Linked DNA regions of Homo sapiens: all the other regions are linked to region 3. The links come from fine-mapping of genetic effects on gene expression. A gene starts in region 3. Each other region holds a variant in brackets. All regions are shown on one strand. Distances are from middle to middle. Region 1 has its middle 26 kb from the start of LITAF. Region 2 overlaps LITAF (lipopolysaccharide induced TNF factor). Region 3 holds the start of LITAF (lipopolysaccharide induced TNF factor). Region 4 overlaps LITAF (lipopolysaccharide induced TNF factor).

What was found. PIP is the estimated chance that this variant, and not a neighbour inherited with it, causes the effect.
Region 1: its variant is the best candidate, but not a certain one, in a credible set for the expression of LITAF in whole blood (INTERVAL, PIP 0.74).
Region 2: its variant is the best candidate, but not a certain one, in a credible set for the expression of LITAF in whole blood (TOPMed, PIP 0.79).
Region 4: its variant is the best candidate, but not a certain one, in a credible set for the expression of LITAF in whole blood (INTERVAL, PIP 0.60).

Annotation. Positions count from the first base shown.
Region 1 is chr16:11,609,367-11,615,823 of GRCh38, reverse strand. It overlaps a transcript of LITAF not described here. Among named protein-coding and RNA genes, the nearest start is that of LITAF, 26 kb to the right of the region's middle. RefSeq lists a silencer at 641-814 and enhancers at 278-885, 886-1,493, 1,629-1,838, 1,737-2,031, 1,999-2,048. The variant G/A (reference allele first, on the strand shown) is at 2,047.
Region 2 is chr16:11,543,314-11,551,354 of GRCh38, reverse strand. LITAF (lipopolysaccharide induced TNF factor) reads left to right here. Exons shown (of 4, transcript NM_001136472.2): 4 at 1,610-3,633. The coding sequence ends at 1,718. Among named protein-coding and RNA genes, the nearest start is that of LITAF, 40 kb to the left of the region's middle. RefSeq lists an enhancer at 6,986-7,801. The variant C/T (reference allele first, on the strand shown) is at 3,702.
Region 3 is chr16:11,583,727-11,591,767 of GRCh38, reverse strand. It overlaps LITAF (lipopolysaccharide induced TNF factor), which reads left to right and starts at 4,849. Exons shown (of 4, transcript NM_001136472.2): 1 at 4,849-4,882. RefSeq lists silencers at 4,496-4,975, 5,006-5,085 and an enhancer at 5,986-6,095.
Region 4 is chr16:11,552,042-11,560,082 of GRCh38, reverse strand. It overlaps LITAF (lipopolysaccharide induced TNF factor), which reads left to right. Exons shown (of 4, transcript NM_001136472.2): 2 at 3,348-3,572; 3 at 6,394-6,550. The coding sequence starts at 3,353. Among named protein-coding and RNA genes, the nearest start is that of LITAF, 31 kb to the left of the region's middle. The variant G/A (reference allele first, on the strand shown) is at 5,055.

The DNA.
Region 1 (6,457 bases), 25 kb before region 3:
ATACTCTAATCACTGAGGAGGGTCCAAGGGCTTTGGCAGCTCTGTGCCAGGAACCAGTGACAGGGAACAAAGACCAAGCAGATACTTTTTATTATACCACATAGGTCTTCACTTTTCTTTTTTTATTATTTTATTTTAGTTATTTATTTATTTTTAAAGACATAGTCTCACTCTGTCTCCCAGGCTGGAGTGCAGTGGTGCAATCTCGGTTCACTGCAACCTCCACCTCCTGAGTAGCTGGGATTACAGGCATGCACCACCACACCTGGCTATTTATTTATTTATTGAGACGGAGTTTCACTCTTTTTGCCCCGGCTGCAGTGCAATGGTGTGATCTCGGCTCACCGCAACCTCCACCTCCCAGGTTCAAGCGATTCTCCTGCCTCAGCCTCCTGAGTAGGTGGGATTACAGGCATGCACCACCATGCCAGGCTAATTTTTGTATTTTTAGTAGAGACGGGGTTTCGCCATGTTGACCAGGCTGGTCTTGAACTCCTGACCTCAGGTGATCCACCTGCCTCAGCCTCCCAAGGTGCTGGGATTACAGGCGTGAGCCACCGCACCCAAGGTCTTTACTTTTCCTCTGAGTTGTTGCCCATGCCATTTACACCCCAGGGTAGATGGGGCTCTGGGTGTCGCTTTTCTTCCTGGGATCTCTGTTCTTTCCTCAGCCACTGTCCCCTGGGACTTTCCTGCCTCGTTTTCTCCTAGAGCCCCAGCTTGGTCTCTCCTTCCTTCCTTTGTTCATTCATTCATTCTCCCAGTGTGTACCGACTGGTCATCCACCCCGTGCCAGCTGCTGGGCTGGGTGCTGGAGAAGCAGCTGTGAGTGAGGCACTCAGACCCGGCCCCATCTGACAGCGGGCCACAGGGTCCTGGAAGCCATGCATTCGCTGTCATGACAATCACTGAACTGACTCCCTGCCGTTAGAACTGCCTGCCGTCTAGAACAGAGCTGGTCCAGCTGCAGGGTAATGCATGCCACTGGGCAAGTTTAAATTTTCTAGTAGGCATATCAGAGGAAGTAAGAAGATATTTGTAACAGCTGAAAGGTGAAAACAGTCCGGGCACACTGATTCATACTTGTGATTCCAGCACTCTGGAAGGCCAAGATGGGAGGATCTCGAGCCCTGGAGGTGGAGGTTGCAGTGAGCTGAAGTTGTGCCATTGCATTCCAGTCTGGGTGACAGAGTAAGACCCCATCTTAAAAAAAAACCAGAAAAAGCCTGGGCACAGTGGCTCATGCCTGTAATCCCAGCACTTTGGGAGGCCAAGGCAGGCAGGTCACTTGAGGTCAGGAGTTCGAGACCAGCCTGGCCAACATGGTGAAACCCCATCTCTACTAAAAATACAAAAATTAGCCGGGCCTGGTGGTGTGTGCCTATAATCCCAGCTACTTGGGAGGCTGAGGCAGGAAAATTGCTTGAACCTGGGAGGTGGAGGTTGCAGTGAGCCAAGATTGTGCCACTGCACTCCAGCCTGGGTGACAGAGTGAGACTCTGTCTCAAGAAAAAAAAAAAAAAAAGAAAAGAAAAAGAAAGAAGAGGAAAGAAGAAGGAGAAGGAGAAGGAGAAGGCCTCCAGAAGGACCAGCCCGCTGACATCTTGATTTCAGACTTCTAGCCTCCAGAACTGTGACAATCAGTTTCTGTTGTTTTAAGCCACCTAGTTTGTGGTCATTTGTCACAGCATCCGTAGGAGGGAGAAAGGAGAGTGAGAGAGACTAGGACATCCTTCTGAGCCTGCACAAGCCTCAGCTGCCCCGTCTGTACAATGGGCACAACGGCTCCACTGTTGACTGGTGTTGCTGGGAATGAATGAGTCATGTGCAAGTGTCCAAATCTCAGGACCTGCCAGGAAGCAGAGGGACCCCACAGAACACAGGCGTTGATCTCAACTGTCAGTTCCGTTTTAGAGATAAGGAAATAAACATTCAGCGAGAGAAGTGGCCCGCCCGGTCATCTGACAACATGTGGCAGGGTGAGGCCGGCTCTCGGAGTACAGATCCTCATTTCTGAGATGTCCTTTCTGTCTGGGCTTTGCCCCA[G/A]CCACCTCTGTGCCCTCGGTTCCACCAGTGTGAACTGCCTAGCCGGCACACGCCACACCCTCCGTCCGGCTGTGCTCCCTGTAAGGACACCTTTCCTGCTCCTCTCCCACCTAACTCTGGCTTAGCCTTCAACAAGAGCCACTTCCTCCTGGAAGCCTTCCCTGACTGCCCTCACCCTCTGGGAGCTTTCATAGGAGCCCAGTTTGAATCAGCAGGGGCCCCACCCTCCAGGAGTTGTCCGTTCTAGGGAAGATTGTGAATCACCGATGTCTTCGAGGTGGGGCAGGTCTAAACAGGCGGAACAACACACTCTGGCACCTCAGACCCAGCTGTGTCTGAATTGCCCAGATGGTCAGGAGAAGGCAGCCCTGGGACCTGGCAGCTGGCTGCATTGCTTATTCCCCCAGGTGACCCAGGAGGTCTGGTCTCTCTGTCAATGCGAGTGTCCCGTCTCTCTCCATCCCATGGGGATCCAGAAGTGGAAACAAAAACTAGAGTGATCTTGAGGTCAGGCGTTCGAGACCAGCCTGGTCAACATGGTGAAACCCCATCTCTACTAAAAATACAAAAACTAGCCAGGCGTGGTGGTAGGTGCCTGTAGTCCCAGCTACTCGGGAGGATGAGGCAGGAGAATCGCTTGAACCCAGGAGATGGAGGTTACAGTGAGTCGACATTGTACCACTGCACTCCAGCCTGGGCAACAGAGCGAAACTCCATCTAAAACAAACCCCAAAAAACAAATAAAAAAAAATCCAAAGAAAAACCTAGAGTGAAGCACCTGAATGGCTGGCCTTGCCCATCAAGAGGCACCCAGGCCATCGGCTGTGCCCCAAGATGACAGCTTTTGCAGGGTTGGGAGGTCAAGATTCTAGGGGGACACAGGGTTCCCACAAGTCTTCAGGAGCCATGGGAGTCCCTGAGATGGTGCCCAAGAGCTTCTGGTGTAACCAAGCTTGGTTCCACAGTGAAATCATTCCCCAAGAGGGCGGACTCATCCTCCAAACATCTCTTTTCAGTCTGTCCTCGTCCCTCCGCCCTTCTCAAGGACGTGGACAAACAGAGATGTCAGGGGAGAATGGGGTGGGGAAGTGGGTGGCCAGTTCTGGGCTGGGAGTGGGGTGGGAAGGTCTGCTGTCTCTGCGAGGGCTCCTGCCTGGGCCTTGTTAACTTTCCATCCAGGTTCTCTGTGCACGTGAGCGTCCTGAGCTGGGCCGGCCCTGGCCGCCCGCTGGCCGCATGCAGTGCAGTTTGCTCTAACCGCAGGTGACCCACACGAGGTCAGACAGCCGTTCCCACAGAAACCTGCTGGGAGTTGCCCAATAAGGCCCTTCCTTCCTCATTCTTCACCTGCCTTCCAGAGAGCCCAGGCCAAGCCAGGGAGGGAGACACCTCTTCACCAACCCTCCAGGCTGCCCCCCAGGTGGCCCCTTTTCACAAGAATGATGAGGACGGTGCAGCCAAAGCCTGCTGCGGCTCCCAGGAGTCACAGAGTCCCTGGGCTGGGAAATGACCTGGTCTGACTCACTGGAGAGACCCCCGTTTTAGATCTGGGCTGAGCAAACCTGGCACATGGTTGGCTGTCCTGAGCTTTGGCGGTGTGGGCAGTGCCAGGAGATCCTTGGACTTTGAGACCCTGTTTCCACCCTCTCAGTGACATGGCTGTGTGGGCACCCACATAACCCTCTTTGCCAGGCGAGTGGTGATTTCCGAGCCCCGAGGGGAAGAAGGAAGAAGGAAGCCATTAAGTTGCGTTGGATGGGGGTTGTTGTCACACTCCATATCCTGTGGGACCCCACAACAGTCGAAATGGGAGGGCCAGGCGCAGCGGCTCACACCTGTCATCCCAGCACTTTGGGAGGCCGAGGTGGGCGAATCACCTGAGGTCAGGAGTTTGAGACCAGCCTGGACAACATGGTGAAACCCTGTTTCTACTAAAAATACAAAAAAACTATCCAGGCATGGTGGCGCACACCTGTAATCCCAGCTACTCAGGAGGCTGAGGCAGGAGAATCACTTGAACCCGAGAGGTGGAGATTGCAGTGAGGCGAGATCGCACCACTGCACTCCAGCCTGGGTGACAGAGGGAGACTCTGTCTTAAAAAAAAAAAAAAGAAAAAGAAAAAGAAAAGAAAGAAAGAAAAAAAAGATAGAAAAATGCTTGGAGGAAATTTGCTCCCAATTGGCTGCAATTTAGTAGCCATTTCCAGGCAATAGTAGGTGGTAAAAAGTATTGTTATAGGGATGTCCTCTAGGGGAAAGGCTGCTAGATTTAGTAAATAAAAATGCAGGATGCCTGGTTAAATTCAAATGTCAGAGAAACAACAAATGATTTTTTAGTATAAGTATATCCCATGCTGTATTTAGGACTTGCTAAAAAAGTATTCACTGTTTCTCTGACATTTGAGTTTAACTGGGCATCCTATATATATGTTTTGCAGACAGGGTCTCGTTCTGTTGCCCAGGCTGGAGTGTAGGGGGGTGATCGTGGCTCATTGCAGCCTCGAACTCCTGGGCTCAATTCATCCTCCCAGCTCAGCCTCCCGAGTTGCTGGGACTACAGGCTTGTGCCACCACGCCTGGCTAATTAAAAATTTTTTTTTTTGTCTCACTATTTTTGCCTAGGCTGGTCTTGAACTCCTGGCCTCAAGTGATCCTCCTGCTTCAGCCTCCCAAAGTGCTGAGACATGAGCCACCATGCCTAGCCATGTACTGTATTTTTTTCTGGAAACCGTATCTGGGAGGTAGGACGACTCATAGATTTTTAGGCGCCTTCTCCTTGACTTTTCCTCCCTCCTCCTACCCCTTAGATTTCGGTAGCTGGGGGAGAGGGGTCCTAAGTGTTTCAATTAGGACTGACACTGTCGTGAGGTCTTGTTCCGTCTTCCATGTACAAATTGGCCACTGATTCACATTTCCCCAGCCCCACCCAAGAGTGAAGGCTTGCTCCCATGAGCCAGCTGGTCCCCCTTCTGGTACATTACAGGTTGCCTTGAATGGTTGTCTGAGTTGTACAAAGCATGACTCCATACTTGAGAAGAGTGCCCCCTGCATTTGTGCAGTGCGCAACCTGCACAACCCAACACAGCAACCCTGTTTCCACTTCTAGATTATGACCACTGGGCGATGGTTTTTTTCCTCTTATTTACTGCTCAAGTTGGGCTCCATCCCATTGTTCCCTTGCTCGGGGGAAAACCTGAGCACTCTGGGAAGGCACTGTGGCAATGTCTGAAGACAACTGAGCTGCCAAGCCATGTGCACAGAGCTTTTGATTCTCAAGCCATCCTGATATCTGCTGGAGGGACTCTCCACTCCCTTCCCACTGCCCAGCGTGCAGGCTGGGGCTTGAAGGACCAGAATAAAGATTTCCTGCCTGCCCGACCGCCACGTCCTTTCCCGATCCTCACCCCCACCAACCCTCCAACCTAGGCATAATTTTAGAAACTTAATAGACCCCTTGCCGGACATTCTTGGCCTGGAGCCTGCGGGGGCAGGTCCTGAAAGAAGACAGACATTTCTTTCTTAGGGATTGCCGATAGAGATCCCCTGTTTTCCCCTGGGACAGGTTTCTGAGGGGCCATTGTGTGCGGAGGAGCTGCTCACACACTTGCTTCTTTATGGGGTCCCCCCACCACCCAGTCCTCCTGGGCTGGATTATTTTGCAGGGTGAGTCCCAGCTTCTCTGTGCTTCCCTGAGGCCCCCCAAAGCCATCAGGAGCAGTGGGGACTAGGGTGGGGAGGATTGAAGGCTGCAGAGATTGGTGGCCATAGGGAATCCTTTGCAAATCATTGGGGTCATTTGGTGCCTTGAAACTGTAAATGACAGGCGGGGACCTCTGGGCCTGGAGAGAGAAGGTGGGGTGTGATTTCAGCATCCAGGCCTTGGACGACAGTGAAAATTTGTTTCCATCACTGGCCAGGAAAGCCTGGTCTTTTCCGTTTGGATTTCAAGGAATTGCCCCATTCCTGCAGCAGACATTCTGGAGGCTTCTGGAGTGTGAGGGAGAAGTGGGCAGGAAGGAGGCATGCCAGGGACAAATGTTTACGGTCCCTTGAACAGCAGGCATCTCTCAACCGTAGCAGATGGGGGCCTCTGAGGCTCTGGGAGGTGAAGTAACTTGCTCACGGTCACGCAGCCGGGAAGTGGCACAGCCAGTCCTGCAGCCTGAATCCTTTGCTCCCTTTATCCCTTTTTCTTTTTTCCAAGAGTGTTTTGGATACGTAATTTACATACCGGACAATTCACCCATTTAAAGCATACCATTCAGGCCGGGCACGGTGGCTCACGCCTGTAATTCCAGCGCTTTGGGAGGCCGAGACGGGTGGATCACTTGAGGTCAGGAGTTCAAGACCAGCCTGGCCAACATGGTGAAACCTCATCTCTACTAAAAATACAAAAAAATTAGCTGAGTGT
Region 2 (8,041 bases), 40 kb after region 3:
AACGCCCACCTCAGGGCCTGCTGAGGATGAAATATGTGTGTGTGCTGCCTGGAGCCGTGCCTGCACCTGTAAGCCATAGGTTAGGATTCCTGCTGAATGGATTGACTGCCCTTATTTGAGCTCTGGAAAGCTTAGGCAATAGGAGGAAATTTCTTTCATGAGATAATTTCCTCATCAGAATATTTCCAAATTCTGCTTTATGTAAACCAGCGTCTTCCTGTGAAGGGTTGAGTTTTAACTCCATTTTTGGCAAACATTGGTTGTCAGGCGGTCTGAGGTTCCTGCCTGTGTGTGCCAAAGGTGGATTATGTAGGTTAAGAGGCATTATTTGGGGAACTCTACTTGGTTGCTGTAAGAAGCAGCCTGTCTATATGGAAAAGAGATCAGTAAGACGGGGGTTGGCAAAACGACCCTGGAGCCAGGCGCCTGTTTTAAGTTTTACGGGAACACAGCCACGCCTGTTGGTTTTTGGATTCTCTGTGGCTGTCTTCTCATTCCAAGGGCAGAGTTGAGCAGTTGCAACAGAGACGCCATGGCTCATCAGGATGAAAGTATGTGGCCGGGTGTGTGGTGGCTTCCACCTGTAATCCCAGCAATTTGGGAGGCGGAGGTGGAAGGATCACTTGAGGCCAGCAGTTCAAGACCAGCCTGTGCAACATAGCAAGACCCCATCTCTACAAAAACAAACAAAACACAGCAACAAAAAGACTAAAAGATCTACTATCTGTCCCTTTGCAAAAAAAGTTCACCAAGCCCATCTAAGACTTTGAAAGACTCCCAAATGACCCCAGATTTGAAAATAATACTCAAAGGGGCTCTGTCTGTAGGAGGAGCCTTGGCATTGGCTGGCATGTTAATTTCCTAGGGGTGTCATCACAAATTACAACACACCTAGTGTTTAAAACAACAGATATTAACTCTCACAATTCTAGAGGCCAGAAGTGCAAAATCAAAATGTCAGCAGGGGCCGGGTGTGGTGGCTCTCGCCTGTAATCCCAGCACTTGGGGAGGCCAAGGCGGGTGGATCACTTGAGGTCAGGAGTTTGAGACCAGCCTGGCCAACACGGTGAAACCCCAACTCTCCTAATAATAAAAAAATTAGCTGGGCCTGGTGGCATGCGCCTGCAATCCCAGCTACTCAGGAGGCTGAGGCAGGAGAATTGCTTGAACCCAGGAGGAGGGAGAATTGCTTGAACCCTGGGCGACAGAGCGAGACTCCATCTCAAAAACAAAACAAAACAAAACCAAAAACTAAAATGTCAGCAGGGCCACGCTCCCTCCTAAGGCTTCAGGGAGAATCATTTTTTGCCTCCTCCAGCTTCTAGTAGGTCCAGGTGTCCTTGGCTTATGGCCTCATCACTCCAGCTTCTGCCTCTGTCTTCACATTTCCTTCTGCCCTCTCTGTATCTCTGTGTGTCCTCTCCTCTTCTTCTAAGGTCATTGGGTTTTAGGGGTCCGCCTGGATAATCCAAGATGATCCCATCTCAAAATTCCTAATTATACTGGCAAAGACCCTTTTTACAAAGAAGGACATGAACATGGTTTTGGCAGCCAGTGTTCACCCTGTTGTGATCAGTAACGCGCTCCGTGTGTCTCTCTCTCCTCCCAGGTGCATAGCGGGCTGCTGCTTCATCCCCTTCTGCGTGGATGCCCTGCAGGACGTGGACCATTACTGTCCCAACTGCAGAGCTCTCCTGGGCACCTACAAGCGTTTGTAGGACTCAGCCAGACGTGGAGGGAGCCGGGTGCCGCAGGAAGTCCTTTCCACCTCTCATCCAGCTTCACGCCTGGTGGAGGTTCTGCCCTGGTGGTCTCACCTCTCCAGGGGGCCCACCTTCATGTCTTCTTTTGGGGGGAATACGTCGCAAAACTAACAAATCTCCAAACCCCAGAAATTGCTGCTTGGAGTCGTGCATAGGACTTGCAAAGACATTCCCCTTGAGTGTCAGTTCCACGGTTTCCTGCCTCCCTGAGACCCTGAGTCCTGCCATCTAACTGTGATCATTGCCCTATCCGAATATCTTCCTGTGATCTGCCATCAGTGGCTCTTTTTTCCTGCTTCCATGGGCCTTTCTGGTGGCAGTCTCAAACTGAGAAGCCACAGTTGCCTTATTTTTGAGGCTGTTCTGCCCAGAGCTCGGCTGAACCAGCCTTTAGTGCCTACCATTATCTTATCCGTCTCTTCCCGTCCCTGATGACAAAGATCTTGCCTTACAGACTTTACAGGCTTGGCTTTGAGATTCTGTAACTGCAGACTTCATTAGCACACAGATTCACTTTAATTTCTTAATTTTTTTTTTAAATACAAGGAGGGGGCTATTAACACCCAGTACAGACATATCCACAAGGTCGTAAATGCATGCTAGAAAAATAGGGCTGGATCTTATCACTGCCCTGTCTCCCCTTGTTTCTCTGTGCCAGATCTTCAGTGCCCCTTTCCATACAGGGATTTTTTTCTCATAGAGTAATTATATGAACAGTTTTTATGACCTCCTTTTGGTCTGAAATACTTTTGAACAGAATTTCTTTTTTTTAAAAAAAAACAGAGATGGGGTCTTACTATGTTGCCCAGGCTGGTGTCGAACTCCTGGGCTCAAGCGATCCTTCTGCCTTGGCCTCCCGAAGTGCTGGGATTGCAGGCATAAGCTACCATGCTGGGCCTGAACATAATTTCAAGAGGAGGATTTATAAAACCATTTTCTGTAATCAAATGATTGGTGTCATTTTCCCATTTGCCAATGTAGTCTCACTTAAAAAAAAAAAAAAGAAAAAGAAATGGATAATTTCATCTACTGCCTTTACTTGGGGTTAATGTGATTCTTAAACACCTTCATCATGGAACTCTCAGAGTGGGGTCCGTTTTGGTTTCCTGGTGGTGGGTTTTGAAAGATAAGGGAAAGCACATTTTGAGCATGTCTGGGTACCATGGTGCGGATGCTTGGGAACCAGAACTGTTTCAGAGGAATCTAAAGTCTGATTTTAGTTTTCAGAGACACAGCTTGTTGTAAAACATGAGAAGACATGATTTCTAGGACTCAAGCAGCAAGCCAGGATTCTAGGTTGGCTGCTGTGTCATCTTTGAAGTCAAGACAAAGCTGGGCTCGACCTTCAAGGGTCCTCGTTTTGATAATACTTCAGAATAGGGAACTCATGTGAATACTACTATGTAGAAATAAAACCTAGACCTTGAGCGAACATCTGTATATTGGTTGAAAACGATAGTGGTAACCATTGATCCCCCTTCATTTGATGTTTGGAAAATTCCAGTAATTATCATTTTTGCAACGAATATGGATACCACATAGTACTTTGGTGTTACCTGCTTTTGAAAAATAAAGTCTTTGGTTCACCCGGTGAACTATTTATGAGTTCTTTTGGTGTGAAGAAAGGGCTCATGTTGCATTTCCAGCCATTGCTACAAAGAACCTTTATTTGTTCAGTAACGGTAGAAAATCCTTCCCGATTAAAAACTTCAGACTTGCTGAATATCCTGCAATGTCAAGATGACCGATGTTGAGTTGGGTGGATTTGCTAACGAGTCAGATTTGAACATGAGGCTATTGGAACCCAATAGGCGTCATTGATGGCGGCAAGCCATAGCTTTCAAGTTTTAATAAAATGCACAAAAGAGAACTGTCCCCATTCATTCTCTGAACAAAACATGCTTTGTGAGATGCTAAAAGGAGGGTATTGTAACATGT[C/T]AGGAATATGGATGCCGCCTTCCCCCGTCCTTTGCTACCTGATGATACAGCTTCATTTTGCTAGATGCAAGGAAATAATGTCATCTTGGTGTGGCTTAATTGTCATTTAAACCCTAAATTACAGTCTTGAAAAACTGCTGCTTTCCAGATCTTGATTGTGTAGTTTCGGGGCCATGCATATTTAGCAGTTTGGCTCAGATGGTGGCATGTACATGATCTCAAGCTATTATTAATTACATATGCAAAGTCTTCAAAACAAGAGCCCTATTTCAGGATCGTAAAAACATGTCTTATGCGGAACTTTCATGTCAGATGCCTGGAGTGTGAAGTGTTCATTGGACATTCCATTTTACTGTTCGAAGTATGGACTTACATATCAAATTAAAAGGCTCTTTTGTTCTGCCACTGTTTGGTGGGGACTTGAGAGTCTCTTGCAAACACTGGTTCACATTCAATTAATGAAAGGGCTTTATACCTACCTACTTGGACCGCAAAGAGGAATTTTACCAATCTGAAACCAAAAGTGACTGTATATCTTATATTCTGTTATGTCCATCTAGGCGAGGTGGCCTTCTAAGAAGTGTTGGTTTGTGGCTTAACAAAATCATTCAGCTACTGCATCTCTTGAAGCCAGACTTAAGCATATGATGGATTCTTTGCTGACCACAGTGTTACCCGTGAAAATGTTTTCTCTGGGACAACTGACTTCCCAGTTGCTAACGAGAACCCTTCTGTTGGATACTGAACTATTTATAAACATGGCTTCATATATGCACACCATTTGGCCTCAGTTTTCTCCCCAGTGAGAGCCTGTCGTGTTTGGGATGTTAAAAATCCTTCTCTGACTTTCTGGGCTCAAGATTTCTGTTAGGAGTAAATCTAGACGTTGGAATTTTACTTGCAGAATTCTGATTTGCCTTTTGGTTCCTTGGTCCTCTCCTCCCTGTATGACTCAAATGTTTACAGTGAGTCGCCTGTTTTTTTGCAGGCACATGAGTGAATTGGAAGTAGATCTAGCAAGGGCCATGAAAGAGACATCAAGAATAGTTTTGCTTTTTATTTTTTTGAGAGGGAGCCTCGCTATGTCGCCCAGACTAGAGTGCAATGGCATGATCTCAGCTCACTGCAGCCTCCACCTCCTGGGTTCAAGCGATTCTCCTGCCTCAGCCTCCCGAGTAGCTGGGATTACAGGTGCCTGCCACCGTGCTCAGCTAATTTTTGTATATTTAGTAGAGATGAGGTTTTGCCATGTTAACAAGGCTGGTCTTGAACTCCTGACCTGCCCACTTCGGCCTCCCAAAGTCCTGGGATTACTACAGGCATGAGCCACTGTGCCTGGCCTTTTTTTTTTTTTTTAATCTAAGAATTTTAAATAAGATTCTGGAGCTCAGATTAAAATGAATAAATAAATAAATAAATAGCTCACCACCACGTATAGAGTCTACTGCATGTAACTCACCACCTTGTAACTGATCTCTGCAGTATTAAAAAGATGTTCTCCCAATTAAATACCTTTTCTCCTTTTCTTTCCCTTTCTGTTCCTTTTTTTTTTTTTTTTTTTTTTTTTTTGAGATGGAGTCTCGCTCTGTTGCCCAGGCTGGAGTGCAGTGGCACAATCTTGGCTCACTACAACCTCCTCCTCCAGGGCTCAAGTGATTCTCCTGCCTCAGCCTCCTGAGTAGCTGGGACTACAGGTGCGCTCCCTCACGCCAGGCTAATTTTTGTATTTTTAGTAGAGACAGGGTTTCGCCGTGTTGGCCAGGCTGGTCTCAAGCCTCTGACCTCAAGTGATCCGCCTGCCTCGGCCTCCCAAAGTGCTAGGATTACAGATGTGAGCCACTGTGCCTGGCCTCAGCATTTAAGTATTCTTAAAGCTCTTAGTACTGCAGCGCCTCTTAAGTGATCTTGGCCGGTTTCCCAAATGGGCAAAATCAACTTAATGGGTTCATCAAAAGTCACAGTGCATTACTCATAATAGATCTGAGTATTATTTGTAAAACTTGGATATATAGATGTGTGTGTTTGGGGGAGGGGTCACGGTGTAAAGTAAGTGTGAAGGGTAACATCTGGAAGCCTCTGGTTGGTGTCTGTGGATTTGACATTGTTTATCATTGATTAACTCCTGCTGTGTTGCAGCCATTGTACAATTGGGGTAGAAAACACGACCCTGCCTAGGAAGAGTGAACAGTGGGCTTAGCGCTGCCCTGCCAACATTTCTGCCCCCTTCCTCTTCTCTCCTTCCTTCTTTCCATCTAAAATTCACCTAATGTTAAAGTACATAATTAGGTGGCTTTGAGTACATTCACAGTGCTATGTAACCATCACTTCTACCTGGTTCCAAAACATTTTCATCAGCCCAAAATAATACCCCAAACCCATTAGCAGTCACTCCCCATTCCCTCCTCTCCACAACCCCTGGCACCCGTCAGTCTGCATTCTGTCTATGGATTTACCTATAGTGGGTATACTATATCCATGGAATCATAGAATATGTGATCTTTGCATCTGGCGTCTTTTGCTGAGCATCACATTTTCAAAGTTCATCCACATGGTAGCATGGACCAGTGGTTCATTCCTTTTTGTGGGTGAATCATACTCCGTTGTGTGGATAGACCACGATTGGTTAATCCACTCATCCCTCGATGAACGTCTGTGGTTTCTACCTTTTGGCTATTGTGAATAATGCCGCGGAGAACATTTGTTTACAGGCTTCTGTGTGGACATATGTTTTCAGTTCCCTTGGGTGTATACCTAGGAATGCAATTGCTGGGTTATAGGGTAATTCTACCTGTATGGTTCATTCATTCATTCATTCATTCATTCATTTATTGAGACCAAGTCTCACTCTTGTCACCCAGGCTGGAGTGCAGTGGCATGATCTCGGCTCACTGCAACCTCCACCTCTCGGGTTCAAGCGATTCTCCTGCCTCAGCCTCCTGAGTAGCTGGGACTACAAGTGCATGTCACCACGCCTGGCTTATTTTTTGTAGAGACAGTGTCTCACTGTGTTGCTCAGGCTGGTCTCGGAAGTCCTGGGTTCAAGCCATCCGCTTGCCTCAGCCTCCTGCGTAGCTGGGATTACAGGCACACGCCACTACACTCAGCTAATTTTTAAATTTTGTGTAGAGTTGGGGTCTTCTATATTGCCCAGACTGGTCTCAAACTCCTGGGCTTAAGTGATCCTCCTGCCTTGGCCTCCCAAAGTGCTGGGATTACAGGCGTGAGCCACTGTGCTTGGCCTTCCCATTTTCACTGAAGGTTTTCTTTGTGGTTACATTGGTTTGCCTTTCCCTGCATTAGTTGTTTGTCTAACTTAATGGCCTCCTCATTTTATGTTCTGCCTGCCTTCTGTCTTAAAGTCTTAAATCCGTTCAGGCCTTTATCAGTGAGCAGATAGTGTCCACATGTGTATATGTGAGGGGGTGGTCTGGGTGTCTCTATAGGTGTGTGTGTGTGTGTGTGTTGGGGGCTGTGTATGGGGGGATATGTAGGAGTGTGTCTGTGTATGTGTGGGTGTGTCTGTGGGTGTTTGTTGGAGGGCCTAGGTGTCTGTCATGTGTGTGAGCTGGGCTCCGGGTGTCTCCGTAGCTGTCTATGAGTGTCTGGCCCCGTGTGAGCGTGCATCCACATGTGTATGTGTCTCTGGGTGCATGGAGCGTAAGGGGAAGGGGCCAAGCTGCCCGGAGCTGCACTGGCCTGGAAGCCTTCAGTCCTCCTGGAGTCCTGCAAGGACTTTCAGGCCAACGACCCCCAGGGGGAAGACAAATGACTGTTGCCTCACTGATCTCAGGGACTAAAGGGTAGGAATGATTGTTCCTTCCATTGTTATGCAGTGTGGAGGGGACCATGCCTGGCCTCCCGACCTTGTCAATCACGGCTATGTCCAGCTGCTGGTGGATGATTCCAGATGGGAAAGATTCTTACTGAATCCTGTACGACAGGGCCAGGGCCACTGTCCTCAGACCCCACGCTGCACCTTAGAATCCCCTGGGGGAGGCTGGATGCGGTGGCTTCATGCCTTTTGGGGAGGCTAAGGCAGGAGGATTGCTGGAGCCCAGGAATTAAAGACCAGCCTGGGCAACATAGTGAGACCTTGTCTCTACAAAATTAAAAATTAAGTTTGAGCGTGGTGGCTCATGCCTGTAATCCCAACACTTTGGGAGGCCAAGGCGGATAGATCACCTGCAGTCGGGAGTTTGAGATCAGCCTGAGCAACATGGAGAAATCCCGTCTCTACTAAAAACACAAAATTAGCCGGGCATGGTGGTGCATGCCTGTAATCCCAGCTACTCGGGAGGCTGAGGCAGGAGAATCGCTTGAACCCGGGAGGCGGAGGTTGT
Region 3 (8,041 bases):
CTGGGAGGCTGAGGCAAGAGAATTGCTTGAACTTGGGAAGTGAATGTTGCAGTGAGCCAAGATCACGCCACTGCGCTCCAACCTGGGTGACGGAGTGAGACTCTGTCTCAAAAAAAAAAGACTCTTTCTCCATTGAATGGTCTTGGCATTCATTGATCATAGATATATGGTTTATATGTAGACTCCCAATTTTATTTCATTGATTTATATGTCTATTCTTATGCCAGAACCACATGCTTTGATTACTGTATCTCTGTAGTAAGTTTTAAAATCAGAACGTGTGGGCCAGGTGCAGTGGCTCATACCTGTAATCCCAGCACTTTGGGAGGTGGAGGTGGGAGGACTACTTGAGCCCAGGAGTTCAATACCAGCCTGGGCAACATAGTGAGACCACATCTATACAAAAAATTTAAAAATTAGCTAGGCATGGTGGTGCGCACCTGTAGTCCCAGCCACTCTGGAGGCTGAGGTGGGAGGGATCGCTTGAGCCCAGGAGTTTGAGGCTGCAGTGAGCTATGATGGCACTACTACATCCCAGAATGGGCAACAGAATAAGACTCTGTCTCAAAAACAAAGTGTAAAAAACAGAAACAGTGGATCCTCCAACTTTGTTATTTTTCAAGATTGTTTTGGCTATTTGAAATCCCTTGTAATTCCATATTAATTTTAGGATCAGCTTGTCTATTTTTGCCAAAAAAGGCAGCTGGAATTTTGATAGAGATTACATTGGACCTGGGCCGGGCACGGTGGCTCACACTTGAAAGCCCAGCAATTTGGAAGGCCGAGGCAGGTGGATCACTTGAGTCCAGGAGTTCGAGACCAGCCTGGCCAACACGATGAAACTCTGTCTCTACTAAAAATACAAAAATTAGCCAGGCTTGGTGGTGCACACCTGTAGTCCCAGCTACTCGAGAGGCTGAGGCAGGAGAATCGCTTGAAACCAGGAGGCAGAGTTTGCGGTGAGCCGAGATCGTACCACTGCACTCCAGCCTGGGCAACAGAACGAGACTCTATCTCAAAAACACAAAACAACAACAACAAAAACAGAGATTACATTGGACCCGTACATCAGTTTGGGAAGTATTGCCATTTGTGATCATTACTTTTACACATCAACGTGGCTAGCCTATAGTACCCAGTTATTCAATTAAACACCAATCTAGATGTTGCTGTAAAAGTATTTTGCAGATGTGGTTTATTTTAGTTGACTTCAGGTAAAGGAGACGGTCTCCTTTACTTAATTCAATACTTTATCACAAAGTATTGAATATCTCATGTAATTTACTGAATACTATACTAAAAGTTAAAAACAGAATGGTTGTAAGGGTACTTGAAGTACGGTTTCTTTTGAATGTGTATCACCATCATAAAGTCAAAAAATCATAATTGAACCATCATTAAGTCTGGTACCATCTATATATGTATATATCTCCTCTCTCTTTCTTTGAAAGATTTCTGACTGATATACCACTTTAACTATATTAAATCTTCTGGTCCATGAATGTCTTTCCATTTATTTAGTTTTCTTTAATTTCTTTCAGCAATGTTTTGTAGTTTTCAGTGTATAGGTCTTGTTTGAACTTCCTTAGTTAAGCGTTTTCCTAAGTATTACATTCTCTCTCTCTCTTTTTTTTTTTTTTAGAGATGGGGTCTCGCTATGTTGCCCAGGCTAGATTCAAACTCTCATGCTCAAGGGGATCCTTCTGCCTCAGCCTCTTGAGTAGCTGGGACTACAGGTGTGTGCCACCATACCCAGCTTCTATCCTTTTGAGGCTATTGTAAATGGAGCCATTTTCTTAATTTCATTTTTGGATTGCTCATTGCTAGTATATAGAAATGCAACTGGCTGGGTGTGGTGCCTCACACCTGTAATCCCAGCACTTTGGGAGGCCCAGGCAGGTGGATGGCTTGAGCCCAGGAGTTTGAGACCAGTCTGGGCAACATAGCAAAGCCCTATCTCTACAAAAAATTACAAAAAAAAACTAGCTGGGCACAGTGGTACATGCCTGTAGTCCCAGCTACTGAGGAGGCTGAGGTGGGAGGATCGCCTGAGCTCAGGAGGTCAAGGCTGCAGTGAGCTGTGATCGAGCCACTGTACTGCAGCCTGGGTGACAGAGACCCTGTCTCGAAAAAAAAAAAAAAAAAAAAGCAACTGATTTTTGTATGTTAATCTTAAATCCCACAACTTTGCTGAACTGGTTTATTAGCTCTAATAGGTATTTAGTACATTCTTTAGGGTTCTTACATATAGGATCATATCACCTGTGAATAGAGATAGCTTCACTTTATCCTTTTCAATCTGGATGCTTTTATTTTTCTTGCCTAATGGCAATGGCCAGAACCTCCAGGACAATGTTGGACAGAGGTGGCCAGAGTGGGCACTTTGGCTTGTTCCTGTTCTTAGGGGTAAAACTTCCAGTCTTTTACCATTAAGTGTGTCATTAGCTCTGGGATTTTCATAGAAGCCCTAAGGTTGAGGAAGTTCCCTTCTATTTCTAGTTTATTATTATTTTTTTAATCATGAAAGCATTATTGGATTTCTTCAAATGCTTTTTCCGTCTATTGAGATGATCACGTGGCCCAGTTTACTTTTACCCCCTGGTTGGAAGCCTTGGGTTGGAAATTCAATCTCTGTGGTTTTTTGGGGATCAAAGAAAAGAGTTACAGTCTTATAGCTCTCCCCATAAATAATTGCAAGCTCACAGCCGTGGTAAGTGTTTAGGATGGATAAAAACACAAAGCTGGCTCCTGTTGCTGCTCAGCAGTTGGGGAAAGAAAAACAAATGAAGATGTGGTAGTATTCAGTAAAGGACAGAAGAAAATTCAGGCTTACTACTGCTTTTTACAGGAAGGAAGGGAGGAAGCGAGGAAGGGAGGAAAGGAGGAAGGGAGGAAGGAAGGAAGGAAGGAAGGAGAAAAGGTTGGGAGGGAGGGAGAGACAGAAAGGAAGGAAGGAAGAAAAGCATTCATACAGGGATGTTTCTTGAACGTTATCTCTGAGAGATTTTCCCTAGGTGTTATGTCTCCCTAGCAATGGTCTGTGATATTCTGTCTTAATGTCAGTATAATAATTGGTACCTTTGCAAGCCTTGGTTGCATCCTGAGAATGGAGGAATGGCAGAGGTTGGGTGTAATCCAATTTCCTGTTCTTCTCTTCTCCCTCCCTCCCTCCCTTCCTTCTTTCCTTCTCTTTCTTTTCCCTTTCTTTCTTTCTCTTTCTTTCTTCTTTTTCTTTCTTTTTTTTTTCTTTCTCTTTTCCCTCTTTCCCTCTTTCTTTCTTTGTTGCTTGCTTGCTACAGTGCAGTGGCTCGATTATAGCTCACTACAGCCTCAACCTCCGGAGGTCAAGGAATCCTCCCACCTCAGCCTCCTGAGTAGCTGGCACATGCCACCACTCCACCGCTTTATTATTATTCTTTTAATTAAAAAAATTTTTATAGAGATGGAGTCTCACTATGTTGTCCAGCCTGGCCTTGAACTCCTGGGCTCAAGAGATCCTCTGGCCATGGCCTCCCAAAGTCCTGAGACTATAGGCAAGAGCCACTGCACCCGCCCCCTTCATATTTTAAAAGCAGTAAAATGTTGCCCACACTAATAACATCTACATGGGAACCTCCTATGCTTGGGAGAACTTTGAAATCCCTTCCAACTTGGTAACTCGTCCACGGCTGAGGGTGGCCCGTCAGTGGACATGGCGCAAGGTGGCAAGAACTTGGGGCTGGGGACACTTTGCTGAGGGACCCGGGACAAGCCACACTCCCTATCTGGGCCTCACTATCTTTAGGACCTCGGGTAAAGGCATGGGATTTGGGCACCGGAGGGTTCTAAGATCCAGGTCTTTGCCAGCATGGGGCTCGGAAGCTCCCTGTCCAAATGGCGTTTGTTTGTGGATGGCCACATCATGGTTCTGCCCATCTCCTGACTCTGTGTACTCTGAAAGCCAGGCATGCTTCTTAATTCCCTCTAATGATTTCCCAGAGAGCCTGCTGGATCCAGGCTGCTGCTGTTATCACTGCAGCCGGCCGATGGGGCTCCAAGCAGACGGGCAGATGGCACCCATTTAGGGGCGGATGTGAAATGGGGCTACTGATTTCCAGAGCTTGCTTTCAGTGATGGCTGAGAAAGGCCTACCTGGCGGCACGGACCACCCTGGGGGCACAAAGCGGACAGGCAGCTGATAAGCCTTACCTAATACCTATCCTGTGCTAAAAACTTTACCATCTTCCCAGTTCACTCCCAGTCGGTCTTAGGAGACAGGACCGCTATTGTGCCCATTTTGCAGACAGGAAGCCGAGCTCAGAGAGGATGGGTAACATGCCCGAAGGCACAGAGAGTGTCTTGGTCTGTCCGGACGCGTCTGTAGAGTTACAGGAAGAGAAGGGCCGCCCTCCAGAGGGCCGGGAGCGCCCCAGCGCGGGTCCGGGGTCGAGGTTGGTGGTCCCGCCGCCTGGAAGTGGTGGAGCGGCGCGGGGAGGGGGGAAAGTGGGGAGAGCCGCGAGCGGCAAATCAGGAGGGAGGGCCAGGCTGTCGGGGGCGGACGGGTGGGGCTGGCACCGAGAGGCAGGGGCAGGATAGGAGAGTGGGGGAGACACCAGGTCCGCGCCAGGCGTCTCGGGGGTAAGCCTGGGAAGCTCTGGGGTGGCGAGCGAGCCGGGTGTGGGATGGAGCCTGGGGGCGATCAGAGTGAGGCGGGGAACCGGCGGTGGTCTCGCCTGGGGCCCAGGTGCGGGCCGCGGGGGCGGGAGAAGCCGGAAGCCCAAGCCGGCCGCGCTCCGCCCCGGCGGGTCCAGCCCCCGCCCCCGTCCCCGCCGCCCGGCCCTTTTCTCGGGGCGCCCGAGAGGCCAGCTCAGACCTCCCGGCTCGACAGGCGGCGCGGGCGGCGGTGAGTGCGGCGCGGGGACGCCGGGGCGCGGGGACCAGCGGGAGACAGCGGGGGGCCGGTGGCGCCAGCACCTGCTGGGGGCCCCGGGCACTGAGCCCTTGGCTGGGGCCTCCTGGGATGCCAGGGGGCGCGGGTCGGGTCGCGGGCATCGAGGCGCGGCGGAGGGCGTGGGGGCCCGGCCGGGGCGGGGTCCGGCCTCCCAGCGCTGGTCCCGGCCGCGTCTCCGGTTGGGTTCAGCTCCTGCGTCCCAGAGTGGCCCGATCGCGCGTGGCGGGGTCGTCCGGCCCCCACCCGAACGAGCGCCCTTCGCGGCCCGCCGCGTCCCCCTCCCCGGAGAGGACGGCCCCTGGGCTTTTTAGAAAAAGGCGCGATTCTCTCTAGTGACTCAGGTTGAGATTTCCAGAAATATCCCCCGGGGGTTCAGAAACAAAACCAAAACAAACAAAAAAACCCCAACGAATTCCCAAATGCTATTTGCCAAACATTTGACTTCTAGGGGCGCGGGTACCCGCGTTTCTCTCCCTGCCCCCGCGACTTCGCGCAAGATCCGGGAAGGACACCCGAGGCCCCTGGGAGACCCTGGGGAGGTGAAAATCAGAGAGCGAAGCGGGCCGTGGCCCCTAGGCCTGACCCCTCCCCGCGGGGTAAGGCGGGCACCCCGCGAGCGCAGGGGTCCTCTTACTGCTGATGGCACCCAGCTCTGGGCCCAGACGCCGCTCACCGTCCACCGCCGGTGCTGGGTAGGTGCTGGTGGGACCAGCTGGTGACTGGTGGCAGAAGTGGATCTCGCCCCTCCCTGCCAAGCTAGGCAAATACCCTCCCCGCTCTGGTTTGCAGGTCACTGTGGATAGGTGGTCAGTTGGTGGTGTGCCCGAAGCTCTTCGGGGTCAGGGAGAGGAGGTGATAGGGGAAAGGTGTATGTTCTGGAAGGGCCAGTCATGCTTCAGGGACCAGGCTAGTTGGACCTTCACTGGTTTTCTACTTCCCGACAGTGGAGCTGATGTCACTGGCTGTTGGACTGAGCAGTGGTCACTGGGAAATCTACAGTTTGTGGAAGCCACGGGGTCTTCCAAGCTCCTACCAGTCTTCCCAAAGAGGATGCCTCCCTCCCCTTGGCCTGGTGCACTGGTGCTGGTTCAAAGACTGTCTGAAGCCCAGCTTGGGGTCCTCTTTAGGAAAGCCATGATTTGCCTTAATGTGTGCTTGGCTGCTTCATCTGCCCTCTCACCCCCTGCCTTCTCAGAGTGACTCTTTTTAGGACTTCCTATTTAGGACTAACCCAGATGCCTACAGAGAGAAGTGCAGGCTGGTATCTGGAATTCCACCAGTGTTTTGGTTTTATCAGTTGGAGCAGGATCTAGATGGCGTGTGACTTGCTTTACCTGGCATAGAGTAACACCCATATTGCACTTGGCTTTCTTCTCCACCAGCCCTTGCTCTGGGAACTAAATGTGCACCAAACTCTCTAAGAAACATTTAATTGTAATCTACCATGAGGGAGGCCCATCTCCCTCTTTCCTGTTACTTTAAGGCATGAATAATTGATGCATTTATTCACATTTGAGAAAGTATCTTGTAATGTTTTCACAGATTAAGTGACTGGGTGATTGATCTAAGACGTAGGATCAATTTCTTTCTTTTTTTTTTTTTTTTTTGAGACAGAGTCTCACTGTCGCCTAGGCTGGAGTGCAGTGGTGCGATCTCGGCTCACTGCAACCTCTAACCCTCCCCACCCCACCTCAACCCCCTGCCTGAGTTCAAGCAATTCTAGTGTCTCAACCTCCCAAGTAGCGGGGATTACAGTTGGGTGCCACCATGCTTAGGTAATTTTTGCATTTTTAGTAGAGACAGAGTTTTGCCATGTTGGCCAGGCTGTTTTCGAACTTCTGACCTCTAGTGATCCACCTGCCTTGGCCTCCCAAAATGCTGGGATTACAGGTGTGAACTACCTCACCCGGCCCATTTCTTAAGTCTCTAAAATAGTAGATTGAAGTGTAATTCACTGTCTTTGGGGAATACATTTCCCTTTGTTACTTCCGTTCCTTTTATGGGCGGGCTGTTGAGAAATAAAGCGCTACCCTTGCCGTGTAAAGGATGCAGAAGAATGGCTCCTGGTCCTGAGGGGTTTACGCAATGGGTAGAAAGTAGAAACACACACCGGCGAAAAAGCTGGTGCTTGCTAATGCCCTTGTAACTCCAGAAAGGGCTTGAGAACAGTGGAAAGGAGGCAGCTAAGTTAGAGAAAGTTTCATGGAAAAACTGAGGCCTGAGCACATGTGGCAGAAGGAACATGAGGACATAGTTCAGACAAACAGGAGGGTCTCAGTAGAGCTGTGGAAGAGGTACAGACAAGCCCAGGTGGTTGAAGACAGTAAATGGAAAATCCACTGAGAGGAAGGAGCTGGAAGGCGTTTCCAGCCCAAGTTAATTTTCAAGAAAATAAACAGTGCATATTTTGCTGACATTACCCATCCTCACTGCTCAGAGGTGTATAATAGCACTTTGAGAATGGGCTGGTGCCGTTTTGTGACTTAAACTTCTCCCACTGAATAGGAATTTCCCCAGAGCTACAGTGAGGGTGGAAAAAAGAGGATCTGCAAGAGGAAGTCCTGTATTCTTGGCACTGTGACTTGTCCTCTATTTGTTTTCGCTTTTACAGCAGTGAAAATAGCCCCGTGGGTGAGGCGGTCTATCAGGTAAATAGACTTCCTTAGTTCTGTGTTTCTTTAGCACACATATTTTTGACGTCTCCCGGGTCTGTTTGGCCACCCATGGTCTGTTCTGAATTTGATTGATGTTTACTTGCCTAAGAATTGTTATTTGAGGTCAAGTGGCATTTTCCAGGGTCCTCATAATTTCATCTTGTTGTTTGAGCCTGTATTGATTGACACTCTGGACACAGGTGACAACAGCTTTGTAGCTAATGAAGTTGTCCCTTGGCTGCAGGTTATTTCAGTAGAAGAATTGTGTAATTTCATAGAGCTTAAGGCATGGACACAAGAAAGGAACCATTCTGGAGGGTGTCTATGTGATGGTAATTCTCTGCTCACCTCGCAGTAGGTAGGAGTTTATATACCAGGATCCAAAGCTGGAGGCTTCAGAGAAAATAATGTTGGAGAATTTAAGCTATTTAGCTCATGGAGCCTTAGATTTAATTGA
Region 4 (8,041 bases), 32 kb after region 3:
TCAGGCGATCCGTCTGCCTTGGCCTCCCAAAGTACTGGGATTATAGTCGTGAGCCACTGTGTCTGGCCTCTTTTTTATTTATTTTGTTTTTATTTATTTATTTTTGAGACAGTCTCGCCCAGGCTGGAGTGCAGTGGCGCAGTCACGGCTCACTTGAACTCCTGGGTTTAAGTGATTCTCCCACCTCAGCCTCCCAAGTAGCTGGGACCACAGGGGTGCACCACCATGTCTGGCTAATTTTTAATTTTTTTGTAGAGACAGTGTCTCCCTATGTTGCTCAGGCTGATCTAGAATGCCTGGGCTCAAGCCATCCTCCTGCCTCAGCCTCCCAAAGTGCTGGGATGACAGGTGTAAGCCACCATGCCCGGCCTAGTAGCCACATTTTGAAAGGTACAAAGAAACAGGTGAAATTAACAATACATTTTACTTAACTTCATATATCTAAGCTGTGGTCATTTTAATATATCAATATAAGAAATTATTAATGAGATATTTTACATTCATTTTTTCCTACTAAGTTTTGAAACCCAGGGTGTATTTTTACATTGACATTCTATCCCAAATTGAATGCTAAATTTTTATCAAAAAACATTTTGATCTATATTCAGTGTTCATCAAATTTACCATTGAAAAAATGATTCATATATTCAAGTTGTCCCAGACTTACATAAAAGCTTCCCAATAATTGAATTGTTAGTTTTCACATTTAAATTGCTTAAACTTAAATACAAGTAAAAATTCATTGGCAAGTAAAAAGATGAAAAAGAAGCTAAAACAAAAAAAATTCAGTTCTTCACTCACACTAGCTCATTTCTTTTTTTCTTTTAGACATAGAGTGTCGCTCTGTCACCCAGGCTAGAGTGCAGTGGCATGATCATGGCTCACTGTAGCCTCCACCTGCTAGGCTCAAGTGATCCTCCTACCTCAGCCTCCTGGGTAGCTGGGACCAGAAGTGTGCAACACCATGCCTGGCTAATTTTTTTAATTTTTAAAATTTTGTAGAGAGAGGGTATCACTATGTTGTCTAGGCTGGTCTTGAACTCCTGGGCTCAAGTAATCCCACTGCCTCGACCTCCCAAAGTGCTGGGATTGCAGTCATGAGCCCCCGTGCCCGGCCACAAGCCACATTTTAGACGCCCAATAACCTTACGTGACTGGTGGCTGCTATATTGGGCAGCAGATACAGAGCATTTCCATCCTCACAGAAGATTCTGTTGGACAGCACTCTGATAGAAAGAAGTCTTGAACACGTGTTCTCCAAGGGACTTTCAAAGTTTTCTAGAATGCAGCCCCAACCTATCTTTACTTACTGACTTTCTTTTTATCACGTTCACTCCCCCGCCTCTATTCCACTTTGTTTCGTTTGTTTGTTTTTGAGACAGAGTCTCGCTCTGTTTCCCAGGCTGGAGTGCAGTGGAGTGATCATGGCTCACTGCAGCCTCAACCTCCTAGGATTAAGCAATCCTCCTGCCTCAGCCTCCTAAGTAGCTGGGATTACAGGTGTGTGCCACTACACCTGGCTACTTTTTTTATTCGTTGTAGAGACAGGGTCTCACTATGTTGCCCAGGCTGGTGGTGAATTCCTGGGCTCAAGTGATCCTCCTGCCTCAACCTCCCAAAGTACTGGGATTACAGGCATGAGCCACTGCACCCAGCCCTTTTGTTTTGTTTTGTTTTAGAGATGGGGGTCTCACCATGTTGCCCAGGTTAGTCTTGAGATCCTGGGCTCAGGCTATCCTGCCACCTCGGCTCCACAGAGTGCTGGGATTACAGGTGAGCCACCGCACCTGGTCTCTGTTTCCACTTTGAGGTGAATACCCTTTCTTCGGTTCCTCCAGAGAAGTCTCCTCTTTGGGGCTTGGTTTAGAGGCAGGGCTTCTGAGAAGGACTCTACCCTTCTCCCTGCAGTGGGATTAATTGCTGCCTTGGCTTCCCACGAGTTCTAGAAAATGAGGCAGACAGTGTCGGGAGAGGGGAGTGGTGGTTGTGGCTCGCTGCCCCGGAGCCTCATTTCCCATTTCTCCCGAGACAGGTTTGAATGGCTCTTCTAAGGCAGCCTGAACCCTGCCCAGTTAGAAAAACAGCCACACAAAGAACAGCACTGTGTCTGCTTCCAGCTGCCCCATGGCTGCTGGATCATGGAACATCAGACAGGAGCACACTCTGGGTGCAGGGTGTAATTCTAGGCGAGCAGCAGCTCTGCCAGGGCTGGAGGGAAATCCTTTCTTTGCCCTCACAAAAGAAAATGTGTGCCTGGCTGCTCTGGTGCTCATTTTTCAAAATGAGAACTGGAGTCTATGTGTATTTCCTTCTTAAAAAGCTATAACACAGAGGCTGGGCGCGGTGGCTCATGCCTTTAATCCCAGCACATTGGGAAGCCAAGGCGGGAGGTTCACTTGCCCCCAGGAGTACAAGACCAGCCTAGATAGCAAAGTGAGACCCCCATCTCTACAAAAAATGAAAACATTAGCCGGGCGGGGGGGCACATGCCTGTAGTCCCAGCTACCTGGGAGGCTGAGGCAGGAAGATCACCTGAGCCTGGGTGGTGGAGGCTGCAGTGAGCTGAGATCACACCACTGCACTGTAGCCTGGGTGACAGATCTTGTCTCAAAAAAATAAAACAAAACAAAAAACAAAACTATAACACACATACAAAAAAGTATATACATTTTAATTGTACAACTGAGATTTTTACAGACTGAACATACCTCTGTAACCAGCCCCCAGGTGAAGAAAGAGAACAGGACCCGCCCCCCGCAAAGGCCCCCTCATACCCCTTTCCAGATTCTTCTTCCTCTTCCAAGAGTAACCGCTCCATGGATTCATTTTGCCTATTTCTGACCTTTATTTAAATAGCATCATACAGTGTGCATTTTGTGGCATCTGGCCCCTTTGCTATTTGTGATAATTTGTGGTTGGTTTTTGAATGCCTTTATCTTTTCCGTTACCTGAAACAGTTAGTGAAAACCACAGTGGTTTAAAAACCAAAAAAACCACAAAAAAACAAACAAAAAAAAACAACGAAGAAGAAACACCAGATATGGAAGGTACGTAGGTCATTGTCTGGTAATGGTTTAAGATGTGAAGAAGAAATGACCCTTATTTGGTTGATGTTTCCACTTTGGATTTTCCAGGTTTTGGTGATTTTGGGTAGTAATTATTTACTTTTTGATTAATTCTGGGGTCTTGAAGGGACATTAACCCTCTTCCTAGCTTTTGGACAAAGCTGGATGGAAGTCATTTTCTCAGAATTTCTGTTTGCCAGAAAGAAAATTGAAGACTTAGGTGAAAAAGAGAGGGAGAGATCAACTGAATTTCTTATCTGGTATGTTCTGTTTCTGTTTTAGGTAAAATGTCGGTTCCAGGACCTTACCAGGCGGCCACTGGGCCTTCCTCAGCACCATCCGCACCTCCATCCTATGAAGAGACAGTGGCTGTTAACAGTTATTACCCCACACCTCCAGCTCCCATGCCTGGGCCAACTACGGGGCTTGTGACGGGGCCTGATGGGAAGGGCATGAATCCTCCTTCGTATTATACCCAGCCAGCGCCCATCCCCAATAACAATCCAAGTACGTGTGGCCTCCCAGGCCCCCCTTACCATTCCTTGGCCCTCCACCCTGGGAATCAGGAGAGTGACCGAAGTGACTCTGCCAAAGAGTCTAAGTGAAGTGCCAGTACGTTCCAGTTTTACCCCCTTACCTTGAAATTCCACACGCAGTCTTTTAGATTCCATGTTGGTGAGGCTCACAGCTTTTCCGTAATAAAGTATGGTTTAGGATCTTTCCCATGGTCATCATATACGAATCTTTTGGCACATCTCTTGGAGGCACAACCAACTTTCTTCTGAGAATGGGAGTTTGTGTCTTAAGGGCCCGCACACTTCCTCCTGAGGTCTGATGCAGAACTTCTGCCCTGAGGCCAGGGCCGAGGTAGGAATAGGGAGGAGAAGAAACCGTCCTGAGCAATGTGTGATTGTGTTTTCATACCAGCTCACCCTCAATGCAAGTTGCTCTTCTGCTTTTGAGCAACTAGATGGTCCCTGTCCTTTGGTGCTTCCTTCCGCCCAAGGGTGCCCTGGTATGTCACTGCTTTAGTATCACAGGTAGTTCTGAAAGAAATCTTTAGCTCAGAGAGGGGGCCCGTGAATCAGACTGCCTGGGTTCACATAACCTCCTTGTGCCTCAGCTTCCCCATTTGTAAAATAGGTTTCATCAAGTACCTATTTATAAATATCAGTGAGTTGTTAACATGAGAGGAAGTTGTGTGTGCCAAATACAGAGTACTCGTTTGATAAAAGTGAACTCTTATTGTTGTGTTCAAGTTATTTTGAGCTGGAAGAGGATGAGATAATGACTTTAGATTCTTAGACCATCCTGTGATCAATAAATAGTTTCTTTTTCTTTTTCTTTTTTTTTTTTTTTGAGACAGGGTCTCACCATGTTGCCCAGGTTGGAGTGCAGTGGTGCAGTCATGGCTCGCTATAGCCTGGACCTCCTGGGCTCAAGTGATCCTCCCACTTCAGTCTCTGGAATAGCTGAGACTACAGGCATACAGCACCACACCTGGCTAATTTTTAAATTTTTGTGTAAATCGGGTCTCACTGTTTTTCCAGGCTGATCTTTAACTCCTGAGCTCAAACGATCTTCCCACCTCCCTTGGCCTCCCAAAGTGTTAGAATTATCAGCATGAGTCACAGAGCCTGGTCCAAATAACTTATTCTTGAACCCCAAAAACACTTAATAAAATGTATGAACAGGGTGTGGTGGCTTGCGCCTGTAATCCTAGCTACTGAGGAGGCTGAGGCAGGAGGATCACCTGAGGCCAGGAGTTCCAAACCAGCCTGAGTGACATAGTGAGACATTGTCTCTATGAAAATAAAATTAGCTGAGTGTGATGGCTTGTACCTGTAGTCCCAGCTACTTGGGAGGCTGAGGTGGGAGGATTGCTTAAGCCCAGGAGGTTGAGGCTGCAGTGAGCTATGATTGTACCCCTGCACTCCAGCCTGGGCAACACAACAAGACCTTGTCCCCCCTGCCAAAAAAAAATTACAC[G/A]TAAGTGCTAAAGTATGATTTAATACTACTTTTCTGGAAGGAGGGTCTTTCTATGAGTATTACTAAGTTCAGTTAACTCTAGGCAGTAATTTCCCCCTAATTCATTTGTTATATAAATGACATTCTAACGTAAAAAGGAACAGAAGGAAGTTGCTTTAACAAAAATATGAGCTTAACAACTGAAGTGCTTGATGATTTTCATCACCCTGGGTTCTCTCTTTTTTTTTTTTTTTTTTTTTTTGAGGTAGAGTCTTGTTCTGTTGCCCAGGCTGGAGTGCAGTGGCATAATCTCGGCTCACTGCAACCTCTGCCTCCCAAGTTCAAGCAATTCTCCTGCCTCAGCCTCCCAAGTAGCTGGGACTACAGGCACGTGCCATCATGCCCGGCTAATTTTTGTCTTTAGAAACAGGGTTTCACCATGTTGGCCAGGCTGGTCTTGAACTCCTGACCTCTGGTGATCCACGCACCTCGGCCTCCCAAAGCCAAGGGATTTGCTGGGATTACAGGTGTGAGCCACCGTGCCCGGCCTGGATTCTCTTCTGATTCTTGAGAATGTTCGAACATGTTTTCACATAGCTTTTTCTTCCTAGCATTATTTTATATTTTCATTTCTTGTATCAACACAGTTCACTAGCTTGTTGTCTTACAGAGTTGGCCTGCGTTTCCTGGCTTGGTAAACTCTACCCTTATCATTGGCTGTCAGAGTTTATCAAAGGGTTTGTGTAAAGAGAGTGGATTATTTATCAAGAGCTGCTAGGCACAGTGTGAGGCTGGTTAAAATTTATTTATTTGTTTTTGGGACTGAGCGTCGCTCTGTTGTCCAGGCTGGAGAGCAGTGGCGCAATCATGATTCACTGCATCCTCAATCTCTCAGACTCAACTGATCCTCCCACCTCAGCCTCCTGAGTAGCTGGGACTACAGGCGTGTACTCCCACGCTGGGCTAATTTTTATATTTTTTTGTAGAGATGAGGTCTTGTCATGTTGCCTAGGCTGATCTCAAACTCCTAGGCTCAAGCAGTCCTCCCACCTCGGCCTCCCAAAGTGTTGGGATTACAGGCATGAGCTACCGCGCCCGGTCCTCCTTTCTTTTTGAGGCTGAATCATATTCTGGTGGATGGATAAACTTCGCTGTGTTAGTTTATTGGTCCGTCGATGGACACTGGTGTTCCTTCCCCTTTTGGCTCTCATAGATAGCCAGACGATGAACGCATGCTATGAACACAAATGTACAAATATAATATTTGCTGGCATCCCTGCGTTCCTCTCTTTGTCCTGTAGTGAATGCTATTGGCCTTGTTTCCTGAGCAACCTGTGTTTGTCCCTCTCCCTTTCATCAGTTACCGTGCAGACGGTCTACGTGCAGCACCCCATCACCTTTTTGGACCGCCCTATCCAAATGTGTTGTCCTTCCTGCAACAAGATGATCGTGAGTCAGCTGTCCTATAACGCCGGTGCTCTGACCTGGCTGTCCTGCGGGAGCCTGTGCCTGCTGGGGTGAGTCTGCCTCCCACTTGGCCCCAAGCCATCCTGCCCTTCTCTCTGGGTGCTGGCGGGGGTGGGTTCTCAACTGCACCATGCTTGACATTCAGGGCCAGACATTTGTGTTGTTTTTTTTTGAGATGGAATCTGGTTCTGTCGCCCAGGCTGGAGTACAGTGGGGCGATCTCGGCTCACTGTAACCCCCACTGCTCAGGTTCAAACGATTCTCCTGCCTTAGCGTCCCGTGTAGCTGGGATTATAGGGGTGCACAACCACGCCCAGCTTATTTTTAGTAGAGCTGGCATTTCACCATCTTGGCCAGGCTGGTCTCAAACTCCTGACCTCAGGTGATCTGCCCACCTTGGCCTCCCAAACTGCTGGGGTTACAGGTGTGAGCCACTGTGCCTGGCCTAAGGCATTTCTTTCTTTTTTTGTGATGGATTCTCACTCTGTTGCCCAGGCTGGAGTGCAGTAGCACGATCCCGGCTCACTGCAACCTCCGCCTCCCAGGTTCAAGCTATTCTCCTGCCTCAGCCTCCTGAGTAGCTGGGATTACAGGTGTGCACCGTCAGGCCCGGCTAATATTTTGTACTTTTAGTAGAGATAGGGTCTCACCATGTTGGCCAGGCTGGTCTCGAACTCCTGACCTCAGGTGGTCCACCCGCCTCAGCCTCCCAAAGTGCTGGGATTACAGGTGTGGGCCATCATGCCTGGCCCAAGACATTTCTTTATTGTAGGGGGTGTCCTGTGCATTGTAGGATATTGAATAGCATCCCTGGCCCCCACCCGCTTAATGCTAGGAGCACCACGCTCCCCAGTGTTCTGAACAAAAATGCCCCCTGGGAGGCCAAGTCATCCCTGCTGCTCTTAAGCGTATCCGTCCCCAGAAATTGGTCTTCCGTCTTTTCTTCTTGCTTATCTGCTGAAACCACGCCCTGCATGTAGGGACAAGCTTCACAGCTGCTTCCAGCTGTGTACAGGGCAATATCCTCAGGGATTCCTTTTTCTTCTAGAATTTCATGACCTAAATAATAATGTTTTGCTCGAGCCCGAGGGAAGCTTTAAAGAATCTGTACATTAAAATTCTTCATAGGAATTGCTTCAAAACTTCTTATCCTTTTATGACCCGAAGTATTTTTCCCATTGCCCATGCAGGGAAATTATATAAATTTTATGTCTGCACCAAAGGTATTATGTTTAAAGAGATAACAGTTTCTGTTCTGGGAGAAAAATCTGAGGAAACACAATCAATTTTTTGTTTCCCACCAAGCAGGTAAAAGTAGCTTCCTTATACCTGGCCACGTGAGCCACTCAGAAAACCCCAAGGGGCTCCATTCTTTTCCTTGAAGGAAACGGTGTTTGTGAGTTTCAGGAGCCTCATGCAACCGGCACGTTCCTCCACATTGTCCTTTGGTGACTTGAGGTTGAGAAGGAACAATATTTCTCTTCCTAACTTCAATAAGAGGCTCAGAGTCCCAGAGAGTTTAGTTAACTTCCTTGAGGTCA